4 linked regions of the Homo sapiens genome follow. The protein of the gene in region 1 interacts with the protein of each later gene in a biochemical or structural test. Each region holds a gene or a part of one and is shown in the gene's direction. Other genes may lie near its edges.

Evidence for each region. The genes of interacting proteins can lie anywhere in the genome.
Region 2: the proteins of PLEKHG7 (region 1) and FRMPD1 interact in a test that uses a peptide from one of them, tested with the Homo sapiens proteins (one large-scale study listed by IntAct).
Region 3: the proteins of PLEKHG7 (region 1) and TAMALIN interact in a test that uses a peptide from one of them, tested with the Homo sapiens proteins (one large-scale study listed by IntAct).
Region 4: the proteins of PLEKHG7 (region 1) and ARHGEF12 interact in a test that uses a peptide from one of them, tested with the Homo sapiens proteins (one large-scale study listed by IntAct).

The regions. Positions count from the first base shown.
Region 1 is NC_000012.12:92,704,957-92,710,160, forward strand, and holds part of PLEKHG7 (pleckstrin homology domain-containing family G member 7), read left to right. Parts: intron 1-1,514; coding exon of another isoform or gene 1,515-1,675; coding exon 1,676-2,182; coding exon of another isoform or gene 2,183-2,197; exon of another isoform or gene 2,198-2,693; coding exon 2,694-2,716; coding exon of another isoform or gene 2,717-2,759; exon of another isoform or gene 2,760-3,593; intron 3,594-5,204.
Region 2 is NC_000009.12:37,653,954-37,658,305, forward strand, and holds part of FRMPD1 (FERM and PDZ domain-containing protein 1), read left to right. Parts: intron 1-4,352. UniProt on the Homo sapiens protein: Stabilizes membrane-bound GPSM1, and thereby promotes its interaction with GNAI1.
Region 3 is NC_000012.12:52,013,168-52,017,241, forward strand, and holds the end of TAMALIN (protein TAMALIN), read left to right. Parts: intron 1-519; coding exon 520-613; intron 614-709; coding exon 710-776; intron 777-967; coding exon 968-1,034; intron 1,035-1,526; coding exon 1,527-2,032; 3' UTR 2,033-2,722; downstream 2,723-4,074. UniProt on the Homo sapiens protein: Plays a role in intracellular trafficking and contributes to the macromolecular organization of group 1 metabotropic glutamate receptors (mGluRs) at synapses.
Region 4 is NC_000011.10:120,475,913-120,480,264, forward strand, and holds part of ARHGEF12 (rho guanine nucleotide exchange factor 12), read left to right. Parts: intron 1-748; coding exon 749-836; intron 837-1,306; coding exon 1,307-1,393; intron 1,394-1,534; coding exon 1,535-1,614; intron 1,615-2,243; coding exon 2,244-2,477; intron 2,478-4,047; coding exon 4,048-4,352. UniProt on the Homo sapiens protein: May play a role in the regulation of RhoA GTPase by guanine nucleotide-binding alpha-12 (GNA12) and alpha-13 (GNA13). Acts as guanine nucleotide exchange factor (GEF) for RhoA GTPase and may act as GTPase-activating protein (GAP) for GNA12 and GNA13.

The DNA.
Region 1 (5,204 bases):
ACATTGTCATGACAATGTCATAACATTGAGCTCCTCCTCTACTGATAGGAATAGATCTAACAACCTATTAATTATCTATTCACAAGGTTGTTGGACTTCTATGACTGACACAGATTAAAAGAAACAAAGAGGAGAGAGTGGTTGCCATAGGCAAGTACAAAAAGCATAGTGAGAAGTAAGGAATAAAAATTAGGGAGTACATTGGTGTGGGGCCATTTGGTGTGGGAGTGAATATTCAGATGCTATAGAAGCCTGTAACAATTATTGTATTCTCCACAGAACTATAGTAAACATAGTAGTAATCACTGTATTTTGGCAAAGTACTAGAATGATAGTCAACAGAATGAGGTCAGGTTATAAGGAAAAGGTTTATTGGTTTTCAGCCTTCTCTATATCAAGTTAAAGAAGCAAATAATACACCCTAGAAAAGTTCTACTAAAAAGTATTGCCCATGCAATTAAAATTATAAGAAGTAAATTATTAGCCATTCTTAAATTTTGGCTATCCAAATGTGGGCAAAGGGTTTCAGATTGCTGAGTTCTGCTTTAGAATGATAAACTTACTAAAACTATTATTGATGATCTTGGAATATACGGTCAACTACTAATGTTCCATCCACAAACAATCCACGCACAGTCTGAAGCCACCTCCCATGCCATCTGCGGCCAGGGAAGATGGGTCTCTCGCCTGTCCCACAGTCCCACACCTGGTCTGCAAATCATCAAGCATCAACTCTCATGCCATAAGGGATGTGTAAGGATTGATGTTTTCCCACACATACCTTCTTCATGTGGGAAAGTACAGAATAACGAAACTGCAATAAGCCACTCCCATGAATCAAGCTGTGAAATGGAAGGGTCAGCTTTTCTTGAGCATGAGAAGAGATAATTCTGCATGCATAGATTGCAAAAAACACCTCCAATCATGAACAGTAGGGTACCTGGTGATGTCTGGGTTTTTCTTTTCAAACCTGCAAGTCCTTTTTCCAAAATGTAAAGATTGATAGAATCTAAGATAAAAGACGTTGTCAGATACTTTACATCAGTTACCTTCAAAGCCTGTCTCATTCTGTAATTTAAACCTTGAGGGAAGGAGGCTTGTTTTCCTTGTTCTTGCATCCCCAGAATGCACCACAATATGTACATACATACATAAATGTAGATGATAAGGAGGATTTAATGTATATTTGATTCTCTTAAAATGGAATAATCACAAGGGGAGGAGCTATGTGGTTTCCAGGAAGTACCTTAAGTTACCAAAGTTTTTAAAGGCTTTTTTGTTTGAACCTAGAAGGAATATTAAGTAGACAGTAAACAGACTTCAATACGCTATTTAGATGAGAAGGCTGGAGTCACGTATATTAATTATCTTCTGAACGTAAAGGATGCTGATGTGAACTGAGCTCTATTGCCTATGAAGAATTAGAAGTTTTCCTTTGAAATTTTAGACCTTTTTTCTCACTGCAGTCTCCCTCATTTGCTACATATTTCACAGTCTGCTCTTCCTCACTACAGATGCAATAACCTGCTTGACATTCTCCTCTGGAAAAGGAAAAGAACTACGAGAGGAAGCATGGCACTTGGATGCAGAAATTGAGCACCCTCCATGTGATCCAGAGAACAGCAACTCATACGTCTTCTGGAACCTTCTACCAACAGTAGAACCTCTTAGCTTTATGGAGAAAACAGAGTCATTCTGTCCAGAGGTGCCACCCCAAGACTGTGGAGCCTCTCCTCGGCCCTCGCTGAGGAGCCTGCCAAAGAACCAGGGGAGTCTCCTCCAGTTTGACCGGCAAGCCCCAGGCCGCATCTCCACCTCGCCCACTTTGAGGAGATTAAGGACCCGTGGCTGTGGGACAAGGCAGGATGCCTGGCAGGTGACCACCTGGGGAAGCTGGGGAGCTCCTGTGGGCTTCCCATGTTACCTTTCGAAGAGCCTGCCAGGAAGCCCAAAGGATTCTTCACACTTGCTGTCACCCTTGAGACTCCACTCAAGATTGACCTCTGAACCTGAAAGGGCCCTGAATGCAGCTGACTCACTGGAGCCCCAAACCCGGCCCACTGACAAGTATCTCCCTCCTGAGCTTCAGCCTGTCAATGAAGGGTCCCTTCACCAGGCCTCTCTTCGGCAGCAAGAAGGCCACTTCCTGCCCAGCCCCACCCTACGACACCCTAGTCCTCAGGTAACACAGCTCTAAGCCTCCGGCCTCTCAGTTGCTGAACCACAAAGCAAAATAGATCTCAGAGTTGCTTAGTTCCCCCAAGGGCCAGTAGATCCTAAAAAGGAGACAGCACAGGAAGTCACACTGAGGGGACACATTCTCTTTAGGAAGCATTGGCTCTTAAGTGAAAGGAGGGCAGCAATCTGGGGAGGAAAGAAAATGATCTCGCTCACTTTCTTCTGTCCTTAGAGGCACTTTGAGAAAGGATGCACCAAGGCCAGGCTTACCGATGGTCTGTCAGGTACCCGAGAGCAATGGGGGCCCTCTTGCAAATGCACACTATTTAAAGACAACGTCGTGTCACTGATTTAAAAGGGGAGAAAGAGCCAGTTATTCAAATTTCCAATCCCACCAAAATGTAAAACATGTTTTAACTAGGAGGGCTCATTGTTTCTCCTTTCAACATGTTTGCTTTGGAGTTTGGGATGGGTTTGAGCAAGACTAAAACATATGTTCTTAAAATTTATTTCAGGGAGAAGAATTGCACCCATCCAGGTGTGTATGCATTTATTTTCTCCGGTGCTATGACATCTGTTGACTATTTACTATTAGATTTTTATTTCTGTCCTGACATAACAAAGCTGACGGTGTGTTAACCAGTGCACTTTGTTTTATAGCACTCAAGTCACTCTTCGCATTTATAGGTGCACGAGTTTTCATTTCAAGAGTCTCCCTTTAAGAGCACAGCATTTGGGGGCAGGATACAATGCCATATGCAGTCATAGTTTTCATTTTGAATTGTCAATGTCTTGGCCCTGTGGCTTAATTAACATCCACTTAGTAATAGGTTTTGTCTGGTAGAGAAAATAGAAAGGCCAGAGATATGCAACAGCTTTTCAAAGAAAAATTTGGAGGATAAAAGAAAGGAACAAGATGTCCTGGTTAAATCTAGGGTGACCTTTAAAATAACCTGTTATGACAGACTGTGCCCTTATCCAGAATGAAGTAGACTGTGTCATTTCCAAAACCAGCTCTGAACTTTCAGCACGGCCCCCTGGTTGTAGCAATGGATCTGCCATCTCTGACAGGGATGAAGAGTTTCTGCAGCAGCAAGGGAAAGATCCATGCCCAATTTTATCTTCCTGACTTGTGGGATTGGCAGGAAAGCCCTCATTTCATTTGAAAAGTCACAGAGGATTTTTTTGGAGAAATAGCTGCTGTTTTATTACTGGACCTCAATCCTCAAGCAATAGTTTGATATTCATAGCAGTAAGGATAACATCCATGTACACATTCTTTGTTGATTTTAATCCTTGTTGGCCTAATTGTACCAACAAAGGTAGAAGATACTTACCAAGCCATAGGGAAATGCAAATTGTTATGTCTGTGTATCAGCTAGCTGTTGCTAGATAAAAAACCACTTAAAGTAACAGACAGTTATTGTTTCTTATAAATCTCTGTGTTCCCTGGGGGTGACTTGGTCTAGGCTGGGTTTAGCTGAGCAGTTCCACTCCAAATGTTCCTTATCCTGCTCATGGGATCAAAGGGCTCCCATGGGTCCATGGGATCAATTAAGCAGATTCTTTATACAGTGAAGGGAGAGGTTCAAGAGGACAAGTAGAAACATGCAAGGCCTCTTGGAGCCTGGGCTCTGAATCTGGTCTAATTTTATTGACCAAAGCAAGTCACTCAGTTGAACTCAGCGTCAGGGAATTACATGTTACCAACAGTGGGAGAGCATTGAAATGTTACATGGCAAAGTGTATGGATGTAAGGAATGGGGAAGAGTGGGGCTGTTAATGTAAATCTTCCATACATGTGAAACAGAATAAAGCTCTCAGATGAGATCTAGTTCAGTTGTGTCAAAGAAAGTGGAAAAGGGTAGTCTTAGAAAAAAAAATTATGTTTAGAGTCGAATTATTTTAATAAGATTTTGAGAAATTTTATTCCTTACCCTAAGAGCAGTGTGAAACCATTTGATGAATTGATATGATCAGATGGATGTCAGATATACCTGGGATTTAGATGCAAGTAGACTTGAGTCAAATAATTCGAATGTTCAGGTATGAGAAGTTGTTAAGTTAGATTATGATGAAGGCAGTGGGGTTAAAAAGAAGTATCTCAATGCAAGAGATATTTAGGAGATACAATCCCCCAGACTTTGTGAATGGTAGCCTATCAGGGTGAGGGAAAGGAATCTTCAAGAATGACCTCCAAGCTTCTGGCTTGTTCAACTGGGTAACCAAGGTGTCCATTCACTGACCTAGATAAACTTGGGTAAAGAAATTAAATATGAGTGGTTAGAGTGTAGGTCTTGTGTTCAGGTTTGGACATGTTGAGTTTGAGGAACTATGAAACATCTAAGTGGAGATTTTGAGTAAATAATTGGTTAGAGAAGGCACCAGGGGTGGATGTACTATATGTATATTTGTGAGTCTTAAATCAAGGAATGTTTCCTAGAGCAGGTAAAGTCTGGGTCCAGCTCTGATTATTAGATGGAGCCGGCAGACATAAAGGCAGATCAATGGGATGCATGAAGCCATTTGCAAAAAAATGATGTGAAGGTAATTTCCATTGCCATATGAAATCTGTGAGGAAATAACAAAAATAGTCTTGGTAAATTTTAAAAGAACAGCTAGGTCAGGCTGGGCACAATGGCTCATGCCTATAATCCCAGCACTGTGGAAGGGCCAGGCAGGCGGATCACTTGAGGTCAGGAGTTTGAGATCAGCCTGGCCAACATAGTGAAACCTCATCTCTACTAAAAATATTTTTTCTTTAAATAAGCTGGGTGTGGTGGTGGGCACCTATAACTCCCTTCTTAGCCTGTTGACTTAAAGGTAGGAGGAGCCCAAAGTGTCCAGGTGGCAATTTTAACTTCAGTTTAATGGAAACTTTCTTGCGTCTCCTGGTGGCAGTGTTCCTCCCTCTGGAACTAAGACCTCTAGGCCAGCAGAACGTAATGTCACAGGAACAGGAGGCAAAAATTTGGCTAGTGGATCACTAGGGGTGATGATGAGTAGTGCCACTTTGACTTCCACCC
Region 2 (4,352 bases), on another chromosome or scaffold:
CCATCTCTAAAAAAAAGAAGACAGAGGGTGAAGAATAACATTGCAATACCTTATGACCCTGTGTAGCACTATGTAGCATCTATGGTACTGTCCTTCATTTTTTCAATCAATGGTTGTTCATAGAACACCTGCTCTCTGCCAGAAAATTGTTCTAGGTGCCTCGAGAATACATCGGAACAAAAGGCAAGGTCTCTACCTTCCTGGAGTTTATATTCTAGTTGGAGAAAATAATGAAGAAGTCATTACATAAATAAGGTAACTACAGGTTGTGCCAAAGGCTGGGAAGAAAATAAGTGGGGAAATGTGGGAGAAAGTAGTAGGAGTGGGACTCCATTGGAGGGTGGTCAGGGCAGGCCTATCTGAGCCAGTGAGAGCCACAGGAGAGAGGGAGCCAGTCTTGCCTGGAGCTGGGTGAGGGTCAGTGCAGCAGCTCTGTATCTGTAAGAGGTAGGGTAGTTCTGTGTATGAGAATGCAGACTCTGGGGCCACACCACCTGGATTTGAATACTTGCCCCTTGGCTAACTAAATATATTCCACTATCAGGTTATTTAATCTTCTGAACTTCAGTTTTTTCATCTGTAAACTAGGGATAATAACAGTACCTCCTTGAGAGGGTTGTTGGATAACTGAATGAGTCGATACATGTAAAGTACTTAGAATAGTGCCAGTTATGTAGTAAGCACCAAATAAAAGTTCAATTGAGGGTGAGAGAAGGAGGAAACTGTTCCAGGCTGAAGGAACAGCAAATGCTAAGGCCTGGAGGCCTGAAGGGGCTTGGTGCATGTACAACTAGACAGTCTGTGTGCACAGGTATTATCCTCACAGTTATCGGGGAGACTCAAGAGCAGGCTCTCTGCCCCTTCAATACAGAATTATATATTTTAGGAATTTTGAAGAAATGACCACCCACAGCACTTTTCACTTGCAGGATCAGGCCGAGTGGTGTGGTGAGCTGCTGCTGCTGCTGCTCCTGCTACAACTTCGGGGACATTGCACAGTAGACCCTTCTTTAGGATCTCTTTCCCTCCCTCCTTCCCTGCCCCCGGAGGTGCTCATTGATGCATAAAGGGAAAGCAAGAGTGGAGCTGAGCCCCTGGTGCCACCAGCCCTGGTACCAAAATACTGGCTGTGCCCGCTTGCTGCGGGGTACCCTTCAGCCATCATCCCCTCCTCCTCCCAAGCTGGAAACTACAGCAGGGGAGGCTAATTGTCTGTGCCTTCTCCCTTGTTCCCTCCTTACTGAAATCTACTCAGTAAGGACCAAGTGACCTTGCCCTGTAAAGTAACAGTGACCAAGCCCTGTTATTTTTACTTCCAAAATCTCTCTCAAATATGCCCCCATCTTTCCATTCTCTCTGAGCATCAGGCTTCAGTGCTCTGTACTGTAAAGTGTGGCTCTGATCTCATCATGCTCCTCCTTAGAGCCTTTCAGTGGGTCTTCCCTGTATGGATACTGAAGTCCCGAGTCCTCAGCCCAGCAGGCATGATGGGCTACCTCCATCCTTTCTCTCACACCCCCTCCTCTGCACCATGTCCCCACTCTTTTTTTTTTTTTTTTTTTTTTTTTGAGATGGAGTCTTGCTCTGTTGCCCAGGCTGGAGTGCAGTGGTGCGATCTCGGCTCACTGCAACCTCTGCCTCCCGGGTTCAAGCAATTGCCCTGCCGCAGCCTCCTGAGTACCTGGGACTACAGGCACCTGCCACCATGCCCGGCTAATTTTTGTATTTTTTCGTAGAGACGGGGTTTCACCATATTGACCAGGCTGGTCTCGAACTCCTGACCTTGTGATCCACCCGCCTCGGCCTCCCAAAGTGCTGAGATTACAGGCATGAGTCCCCGTGCCCAGCCTCCCAACTCTTAATCCCCCTAGCCTCAGGTCTCTAGGCCTTTGCTCCCCCGTCTAGCCCCTCTGTCTAGCATGTGCTTTAGCCTTGGTGGTCCTGCCTATGCCTGAAGGCTAAGCTCAAATCCTACCACCCTTAGGAAGCTGTCTTCCAGATCCCCTCATCCCAGGGATTTCACTGTTCCCTGATACTTGGTACCTCTCATGGAGAAGTCATTACTGTCAGCCTTGAAGGATTTTGTGTGCGGTCACTTGTGTATGTGGCCACAGCTCATAGAAAGCCCTTGGGAGGGCCGGCACAATGTCCTTCATCTTTCTACCCCACAACCCTTTTCACAGAGCCTAGCCCTAATGCAAGCTTGATAATGGTCTGTATCGGATTGACAAAAGCCTGTGATTTTCCCGATATCTGAAATGGTTTGAGTCAAGCCAGAAACATGAGGCTGATGCTTAGGGGTTGCATATGGTTGTCAGCTGAACTCACTCGTGGCATTCTGATCCCTCAAGATGTAGCTCCTTCATTTGATGATGGGTTGATGCAACCTCTAAGATGAGTCTGAGTTTTGAATTTAGCTTTTCAGTGTGCCTATTTTAAAGGAATATACTGTGTAAAATTTGAACCTTGAAGCTTTTGACAATCATTCTTTATATTATAAAAGCGTTCCTTACTGTAAAAAAGATCAGTATAGAAAGCTTTCAAACACCAAATATACCTATGCACTTAACACCAATCAATGTATAAAATTTTGGTTTATCCACAGCTATTGTAGTTGTACTTTTACTGTATCCTGAGATATACACTAAACTTAATATATGTTCATGGAAGCAGTACTAACAGTGGATTAAATTTGTTTTGGTAATTACAGATTACATTATACAGGTTTGCAAATCTGAGACTTTTTTTTTTTCAGTTAACTATCTGCCTGAAGGACAGTGGGAAGCCGGACTAGGTGCTTGGCAGATTGATATGAGGGCAGAAGCCATTATTTTCATTAAGTGACACAGTGTTTTCAGGAACTCATCTGATGTTTAGAGACCTTTTTGCCAGCAGTTAGAAGTGGTTTGGGCCACCAATCCTTTCCCAAGCTGGCTGCTAAATGGTATGTGGCCTTAATATTAGTTGTTTTGGTGAAAAAGAAAAAAAAAAACACTAATTACAAGTTGGAAAAGATAAGATGGTAAATTTAAAAGTTCTTTTGACCTCTTTCAAGGAATGATCTGAGAACCTCAGCTGCTTCAGTAAAAGGGTGATATGGCAAAATTTCAAAATCCTGAATGGAAAGAGCTTCAGAGGAATTCATCTGGATGCAACAGTGCATCATTCTCTGAGATTTTTGACTTAAGAGAAGACAGATGTGCAGGCAGCTGAGAAATGCTGTGCTTCCTGTTCTTTGAGTATCTAGAATATAGGGTGTAGGCTACAGCTTGTATTAAAACCAACGATAACAATCCCACCTCCCCTGCCAGTTGAAACCCCTGTCTGATGCTGACTTGTAACTATTCACATGTGAAGCTTCTGAGTTACTGCTTTGTTGTTTTCTTTGCTCCAATGTAGAATTCAGAAGGATGCAAAAGGAAAAACAATTATTAAAGACGAGGATGGCATTTATTCGTTCTTATAAAAATAATTTATTTAGTAGCTGCAGTCTCTGTTCTCTCTGGCTTTCCCTGGAAAAAGACACCACTCCAGACTGTCCAGGGCTCCCCTGGTACCTGTGAATGTGCTGTTAGTTCCTGGTCTGGTTAGAAGATGATGTCTCTGTGGAGATACATACTTGGCCTCTTTCTTTCTCCCTGGGGTGAGGGACATTTTATGTATAGGAGATGGAAGAATAGACGGTCTCTTTCTCAAGCTCATTCCTGGTTATTTTCAGTACTTAGCTCTTTGCAAAAACTGCGTAATAAGTGTCTTAGTGAGAGTGTGCCTTGTTTATGTGCTGAAAACCTAGATTCACACATATGTTTCCAGATATTTTAGCTACCAGCATAGACCCTCAAACAAGACTGCCAGCTCCGGAGATGATCAAGTACAGCCTTTGTGTGGTGCAGGAATTCCCCTAGCATACCCAGCCTCCCTCTGCTTGGACCTACCAACCCCCACCACCTTCCTATTCCATCCTCAGTTGGCTCTGGTTATTACAAAGTTCTTCATTATTCCAAGCCAAAAATCTTCCTCTCGGCAATGGTTGCCCCATTGGCCCGATCCTGTCCTTTGAAGCCCCACACACAAAAAATCCATTTCTTCTTCCCTATGACAGCTAGTTAGGCCACTTGGACCTTCAAAGACAGGGATCAGGCCCCCACATCTTCACTTCTTTAGGCAGAATGCCCACTTTATCTGGCCCCCTGAAAAGCTAAGAATGGGACACCGCTGTGCAGGTGGGGGTCTGATCAGCCCAGACAGGAGCAAGCCCACTGCAGCCTCACTTCGGAATCTATATTTGCGTTAGCACAGCCTGAGGCCAGTTAGGTCCCGGTGGGTCCCCCTTCTGAGCTGTGCACTGGGCC
Region 3 (4,074 bases), about 41 Mb from region 1:
CCCGGGTTCACGCCATTCTCCTGCCTCAGCCTCCCGAGTAGCTGGGACTACAGGCGCCTGCTACCACGCCCGGCTAATTTTTTGTATTTTTAGTAGAGACGGGGTTTCACCGTGTTAGCCAGGATGGTCTCGATCTCCTGACCTCGTGATCCGCCCGCCTCGGCCTCCCAAAGTGCTGGGATTACAGGCGTGAGCCACCGCGCCCGGCCGGACAGAACTTCTTGAGGGCAGAGTGAGGGTGTTGGGTGTGTGAGGTCCCCACCCTTTGGCTGGGGTGCTGGGCGTGGACAACCTGGTAGTCACTACAGGCCCACAAGAATGGCTGTGGTTCTGTGTGTTTGGATCGAGTATGAGAGATGTCAGAGGAGATCTACAGAGAACCATGAGGAGTTGGAGGAGGGAGTTCAGGAGTATTCCCTGGAGTTACTACCCACCCTTCTCCCCTTTCTGGCTAAGGTAGGAGGCTGGTATTCTAGCATGCCCCATGGAGCAAATCTAACCCCCTTGTCTGCCTGGCAGGGGACACCATCGCCAGCGTCAATGGCCTGAATGTGGAAGGCATCCGGCATCGAGAGATTGTGGACATCATTAAGGCGTCAGGCAATGTTCTCAGGTATGTCTGGGAGCCGAGGTGCCTGAATTCCTGAGCTCAGCCTCTTGGTATTTCCTCAGCCTGTGGCTCACTCAGGCTTTGATTCTCCAACCTCAGACTGGAAACTCTATATGGGACATCAATTCGGAAGGCAGAACTGGAGGCTCGTCTGCAGTACCTGAAGGTAGGGGAACCTAGATAACGTCCAGCCTCCACCCTCCTCTTCCCAAGCCTCTGCCCTGTGGGGGGTCACTTACAGCTGAATCTCCTGTAACTGAAGATTTCTTTTGTCTACTCCCTGATCCCTCGTCTGTACCCACGTCCTGCTAGTTTCCTGCTAGCTTGTGACAGTGGGGTGGGGACTGTCTCTTGCAGCAAACCCTGTATGAGAAGTGGGGAGAGTACAGGTCCCTAATGGTGCAGGAGCAGCGGCTGGTGCATGGTGAGTAGATCCCGGGGTGTGAGGGGCCACTTGTTCTGCTACAGACACCCCATCTGCGCTTCCCCCTCAGAACTGGCGGGTTCTAGTAAAGAACGGTTTACTAGTAAACCTCCACAGTAAAGCAAGGTTTGTTGAGCTACTACTACTTTGGGTACTGCCGCAGCCACATTTCTGGTTATTCTCACACTAGCCCTCTGCAGGTAAGTAACAGATAGTGTCATCTTCACTTTACAGAGGGGAACACCAGGGCTCAAAGAGTTTGTGTCAATTATTTCCGAGGCCCGTTTGTGCTAAGCGGCCCCCATAAGGATCTGAGTGATAATTCCTGATTTGCGGGTGAGGGAAGTAGGGTCTCAGGTTTGTGCCTGGCCAGGGCCACAGAGATGGTCAGCAGGACGGAGCGGGGACGCCCCGCCCATGCCCTCCGACCCTTTGCAGAGGCCACCACGGTCCAGGCCTGACCCGCCCCCTACCTCTCCCGTCTCTGCGCAGGCCTGGTGGTGAAGGACCCCAGCATCTACGACACGCTGGAGTCGGTGCGCTCCTGCCTCTACGGCGCGGGCCTGCTCCCGGGCTCGCTGCCCTTCGGGCCTCTGCTCGCCGTGCCCGGGCGTCCCCGCGGAGGCGCCCGACGGGCCAGGGGCGACGCCGACGACGCCGTCTACCACACGTGCTTCTTCGGGGACTCCGAGCCGCCGGCGCTGCCGCCCCCGCCGCCCCCGGCCCGCGCCTTCGGCCCGGGCCCCGCCGAGACCCCTGCCGTGGGGCCGGGCCCTGGGCCGCGGGCCGCGCTGAGCCGCAGCGCCAGTGTGCGGTGCGCGGGCCCTGGCGGGGGCGGAGGCGGGGGCGCGCCGGGCGCGCTCTGGACTGAGGCTCGCGAGCAGGCCCTATGCGGCCCCGGCCTGCGCAAAACCAAGTACCGCAGCTTCCGCCGGCGGCTGCTCAAGTTCATCCCCGGACTCAACCGCTCCCTGGAGGAGGAGGAGAGCCAGCTGTAGGGGCGGGGGCGGGCAGGGAGGTATTTATTTATTTATTCGCAACAGCCAGCGCTAAAAGAGGGGGAGGCCGAGCCAAGAGGACCCCAGGAGCCCAGAGCAGCGGGAGAGGGTCCTTCCTAGCCTCGGCCCGCCGGGTCGGTTCCTGGCTGGTGTCTGCTGAGGGAGTGGGGGGCCCAGCCCCTTCTCTTCTCCCCCGCCAAACCACAGTGGGAGCTGGGGCAGGGGGAGAGCCAGGCAATCGGGGGCCAAAGATGGGGGTGCTCGCCTACAGTCTGCATCTGTAGTGCCTTGTGGGGTATCCAGGAACACCCTCCCAGCAGGGGATGGGAACCCTGTCCCATGAAGCCCTCTCCTCAGCTTTACTTGCTCCCCCGCCCTTAGCCTTGGGGAGAAATGGCCCGTGGTGGGCTGACCCCCCACCCTCCACACACACAGTTCCATGACCCAGCGGGCCCCCAGGGGCATCAGGTGCTGGTCCTCCTCCCTCCTGGCCTCGACCCCTAAGGGCTTCGCCCCTCCCAGGGGCCTGTAACTAAGTCGGGTCCTGCCAGGCAGGGGGCCTGTGTTCTGTGCCCCTTGGGAGACAGGAACTGGCGAGTTCAGGTGGGGTGGGGACAGCACAGACTGTTCCACCGTTGTGCATATTGTTGCTTCTGAACCACAAACTGTATAAATGGATGGTTTTTTGCATCTGTGTCAGTGTGGTGACTGCCTGAGGGGGAGGATTGGGCTGGGGCAAGCTCTGACTCCACCATCCCAACCCCCGCCCAACGCACACACATCTTGTTTTCTTGCAGCCTGAAGCCAGGGAAATAGGCTGGGAGATTTAAACTTACATGTATGGGCCTGAGCTGGAGGCCCCACGCTTCTTCACAACTTGAGCCTCCCTCCCCAGATACCCAAGCAGGTGGTGACCAAGGCTTGCCTCAAGTCCTTAGCCATCCCTGTAGAAATACGTGTGCTTGGCATGCCTTTCTTCCCAGCTTCTGAGGTCTCCCTTGAGGGGCACAAGCCAGATCTGTAGGGACCTGAGGCATTACCACCTGGCCTGTGAGGGGCCCAATCACGGCTCACTCTGTTGTTCTAGCAGTCTTCAGCGGTTTCCCACCCCAGGATGAGATTTTTCTTTTTTGAGATGGAGTCTCCCTCTGTTGCCCAGGCTGGAGTGCAGTGGCCCGATCTCAGTTCATTGTAACCTCTGTCTCCTGGATTCAAGTGATTCTCCCGCCTCAGCCTCCCGAGTAGCTGAGGTTACAGGCAGGCGCCACCACACCCAGCTAATTGTTGTATTTTTAGTAGAGACGGGGTTTCACCATGTTGGCCAGGCTGGTCTCGAACTCCTGACCTCAGGTGATCTGCCTGCCTTGGCCTCCCAAAATGCTGAGATTACATGCGTGAGCCACCGCGCCCGGCCTCCCAGGATGAGAGTCTGACCCCTGCCGGCCTCTGCTTCTTACTCCCCGCTCTGGCTGCGCTGCTGGCTGTACCTGGCACACTTCAGACCCCTTCTATCAGGGTCTGTGCTCTTACCCCTCCCACAGGTGGCTCCTTCAGTCCTCAGCCCTGCCTCCCGAAGACCTTCCCACCCAGTGGTAAATACAGTCATGCCCTCCCCTGTGACAGCCCTGTTTTATTCCCATCAGACTGTGCATCGCCATCCGAGACTGTCTTGACTTTTATGGGTTTATCTTTGCCTGCCCGCCCCACCCGGGAGGATGCACGCTTCTTGCACAGGGCTCAGGAGCCTTGTCTGTCTTCACTGCTTTTTTCTTGCCTGATGCTAGCACATGGTAGACCCTCAATACAGTGTGTGCCAACATGGTGTGTGCTCAAGCATCTCCAAGTGGTAGTCACGACCTCTTTGAAGTGACCTGTCGGGTCATACAGCAAGCTAGTGTCAGAGCTGGGCCTGGGACTTGAGGCCCCTGCTCCAGTGCTCCTCCCGGGGAGTAACCAGCATGCAAAGGGTGGCTTTGAGAGAGGTCTGAGCAGACCCTCCCTACCTGTCCTGCACCATGGTTCTTGCTTTTTGAGTGGGTCCC
Region 4 (4,352 bases), on another chromosome or scaffold:
GGTCCCTTTTAAAACTTGTTAGTTTCATGGTGGCAAAATAAATTTGTGACCTCTTTTCTCCACTACTCACTGAATATTATTAACTAACAACTTAGCAAAAGTGCAGTTCAAAATAAATGCAAAAGAGTAATAGCATTTAATCTGGTAATTTGGATTTATTTATTTTTTTTCTTTTGAGACGAGGGTCCCACCCTGTCACCCAGGCTGGAGTGCAGTGGTACAACCTTGGCACACTGCAACCTCCACATCCCAGGCTCAAGCAATTCTTCAACCTCAGCCTCCTGAGTAGCTGGGACTACAGGCATGCACCACCATGACCTGGCTAATTTTTTTGTTTTATGTAGAGGCAGGGTTTCGCCATGCTGCCCAGGCTGGTCTCGAACTCCTGAGCTCCAAGCGGTCCACCTGCCTCGGCCTCCTAAAGTACTGGGATTACAGGTGTGAGCCACCGTGCCCGGCCAGTAATTTGGATTTTTGACATGCTTTTAGCAAAGTTTCTAGTAAATTATTGTGGAATTAGTGCTAATTCGTATAATCTTTGTTTTATTGAAGTACAATAAATATAGTACAATAAATACGTTAATATGGTAAGTTGCACAAATTTTAAGTGTACATCTTGATGAATTTTAAAGTAAATATATGTAACCTTTATCTAGTTTAAGGGGCAGACTATTTCAAGACCCTAAAAACATCCCTCATGGCCTCCCCAGGTCATAGTATTAGAGTAATCTTGTATTGTTTTTTCCAGATAACAAAGCTTTATTCGTCATTTCCATGTCAGACAATGGCGCTCAGATTTATGAACTGGTGGCACAGACAGTTTCTGAAAAGACTGTGTATGTATCAGATATGGCTACCTTGCTATAGCTAATATTTTCATTATCCCAAGCGTAATATTCCATAAACTTAACTTTGTTTTTATAATGTATGGAAACCAAGCACTTCCTCTGTACTCTTTTAGAGACGTTCTACTATGAACTTGTTCTTTTTTAGGTTGATGCCTTTTATTTTGATTCTATTCTGAAAGTTTATTTCCTAAAGAAAAAATTGTGCAAAATGTCAAGTGAAGTTTTTTTAATGTGTCCATAGATTTCTCTTAAGGTATAGTTTTGGACTCTCGCCTTAATAGTGTGTTGCCAAAATAAAGATATTCTCTGGCAGAGTGGGTTTTGTTGTTGTTGTTGTTGTTGTTGTTGTTGTTGTTGTTGGTTGATTTGGTTTTTGTTTAGTTTTGCTTTCTGAGTATATTTAAAGGATATTTCTTTTTTCTTTTTTGTATTTTGGATTTCTTTCCAACTTTCTGAAGCTGGCAGGACCTAATCTGTCGGATGGCTGCATCAGTGAAGGAGCAATCCACAAAGCCAATTCCATTACCACAGTCAACACCTGGCGAGTGAGTGTTCCTTTGCATTGTAGTAGGACTTATTTTATGTTTTGGGTTGGAAAAGACTAGGATAATTATTATGTTTTGTTGCGATGATGTTTAGATACCTCAGGAAGGTAAAAGTTTTTTTTTTTTTTTTTTTCTCTACAGAGGAGATAATGATGAAGAAGATCCTTCAAAATTAAAAGAGGAGCAGCATGGCATTTCAGTCACTGGTTTGCAGAGTCCAGGTACACTCTTCTGAAGAGTTCAATGGAGAATGTGCTCTATTATCTGTTAAAATGCTGGCCGGATGTGGTGGCTCATGCCTGTAATCCCAGTGCTTTGGGAGGTCGAGATAGGCGTATCACCTGAGGCCAGGAGTTAGAGGCCAACCTGACCAACATGACAAAACCCTGTCTCTACTAAAAAATACAAAAATTAGCCGGGCATGGTGGTAGGTGCCTGTAATCCCAGCTACTTGGGAGGCTGAGGCAGGGAGAATTGCTTGAACCCAGGAGGCGGAGGTTACGGTGAGCCGAGATCGTGCCATTGCACTCCAGCCTGGGCAACAAGACCGAAACACCAAAAAAAAAAAAGAAAAAAAGAAAAAAAAGAAAATAAAATAAAATGCAAAGAAACTTTAATACTGTTTGGTTTATGCAGGTTCCAGCATCAGAGATTCAGTTTAACAAACTTTGCCTTTGAGCCTTCTGTGTGTCAGTATAACACTGTTCTAAGTGATGTGTATTTTTCTTAACAGATGATCTCTGTAGTTTATGGATTGTTTTTTTTTTTTCTGATTCTTCCCTGAATGCTTCATGTTAAAAGTTAAAAGCTTTGTTTAGATATAGTCTACCTTTTCTATTCCATTGGACAGACAGAGATTTGGGATTAGAATCTACCTTAATATCGTCAAAACCTCAGTCTCATTCACTGAGTACCTCTGGGAAATCAGAGGTACGTGATCTGTTTGTGGCTGAGAGACAGTTTGCAAAGGAACAACATACAGATGGGACACTAAAGGAAGTTGGAGAAGATTATCAAATCGCAATCCCAGATTCACACCTGCCTGTCTCAGAAGAACGGTGGGCATTGGATGCACTAAGAAATTGTAAGTTTTATTCATAACTTATTACAGATACTTACTAAGTATGACACTCATGTGCCATCCCTAAAGTATGTGGATTTATCAAACTCCACTTATTCTTCTAGTTCTATTGTGGAGATTATAGTATTCTCTACAGTGGCCCATGCCACAGGCACACACACACATGCCACTCTGTTAGCTCCCCACCCCCCTGCCTGGTTCAGAATCACTGTTAAAATGGGAGGATAGCATATCTCTCAGTTGTATTGAGGTGGGAAAAAGGCTGAGAACAATTTCTTTGGCTGGGGAGAACCACTTGAAATTTTTAAACCAGCGTATGACTAAAGGTATGAAAAAAGATTAATCTGGCTGAAAGCGGTGGAAGGATTTGAATGGAAAGAGGTATGGAATGGTGTACTTACTAAATAAGCTATTATAATAGTCTGGCCTGAGACTAAAAGAGTTTGGACTAGAATGTTATCAGAAGGAATAAGAAGAAACTGAGAAGTCATCAAATGCTTAAAATAATTGACTTCTTTGAATGTGAGGTCAAAGGAAAGGGAATATTTAGAGATAATTTCATTAATCTAGTCAGAAATAAGAGTCAGAAAAGGACTACCACTGCTTCCCCCACCTCCTTCCATTGTACTTTCTTTTTTCTTTCTTTTGATTTGGTAGAATTATAGGCTCAGTTTTAAAGCATGTCAAGATTAAGATAATGAATGACAAAACACTAAAAAGTGAGTAACTAGCAGGAAGTTAGAGTTTTAGGAGTGAAACTTTAGAGAGAGGTTAGGAAGAGATAGAGATGTGAGCATCAGAGCCATGAGACTTCCTGGCATCTCTCAGGAAGTGATTGTAGAGCAGAAGGACAGAGGATGAGAGACCTAAGTGGAACCTGTTGCCTAAAGAAACATGACAGACATTAAGCTAGTGATGAGAGCAGAGAATTGGTTATTTAAAACCTACAATATTTTTTATACCTTCTCCTGAATTAACAGTCTTAATAATTTCTGATGGTTGGAATAACATTGTCCCAATAACTCTATCATTGTCTGGGTGACCTCATAGCATACACTTGGCCCATTCAAAATTAAATTGGTTCTTATTTTCAGTAAATGTATGTATCTCATAAAATTAGAGGAAATAATATGCATATAGTGTCTGGATCTGGAAAAAGCAGAACTTTTTTTTAGCTTTTTCTGTCTAGCTTAACACAGCCTTTCAACATTCTTAAGAAGTACCTTTAGGGTATTATTCTAGTTATATAGAAGAAAAAATAGAGGCATGATATTGGTTATTGAGGAGTTCTAAATAGTAGTATCTCCCTATTCAGAATGCTTAGATCTTTTCAAGTTTAGTTTAACGTTAAATCTTCTCTAAAAGATGGTGCTTTATTTCATCTTCAAAACAAAATGGAAAATGATTGTATGAAGTAAGATGATTGTATGAAATTAATAATTAACATTTTAATATGTCATTAAAAGATACTTTTTAAAGATAGATCATTGGTAAGTCAGCTAATTTAATTCTTGCAGCCTGAGGTTATAGTTGTGAATATGTTTTTTTTCCCCCTCCTTCCTAAATCGTTTAGTGGGTTTGTTGAAGCAGTTGCTGGTGCAACAGCTAGGTTTGACTGAGAAGAGCGTTCAGGAAGACTGGCAACATTTCCCAAGATACAGAACAGCCTCTCAGGGGCCGCAGACAGACAGTGTCATCCAGAACTCTGAAAATATTAAGGCCTATCATTCTGGTGAAGGACATATGCCCTTTAGAACTGGAACTGGTGACATTGCAACTTGTTACAGTCCACGGACTTCAACTGAATCTTTTGCTCCACGGGATTCAGTGGGACTGGCACCCCAGGATAGCCAGGCAAGTAACATTTTAGTAATGGAC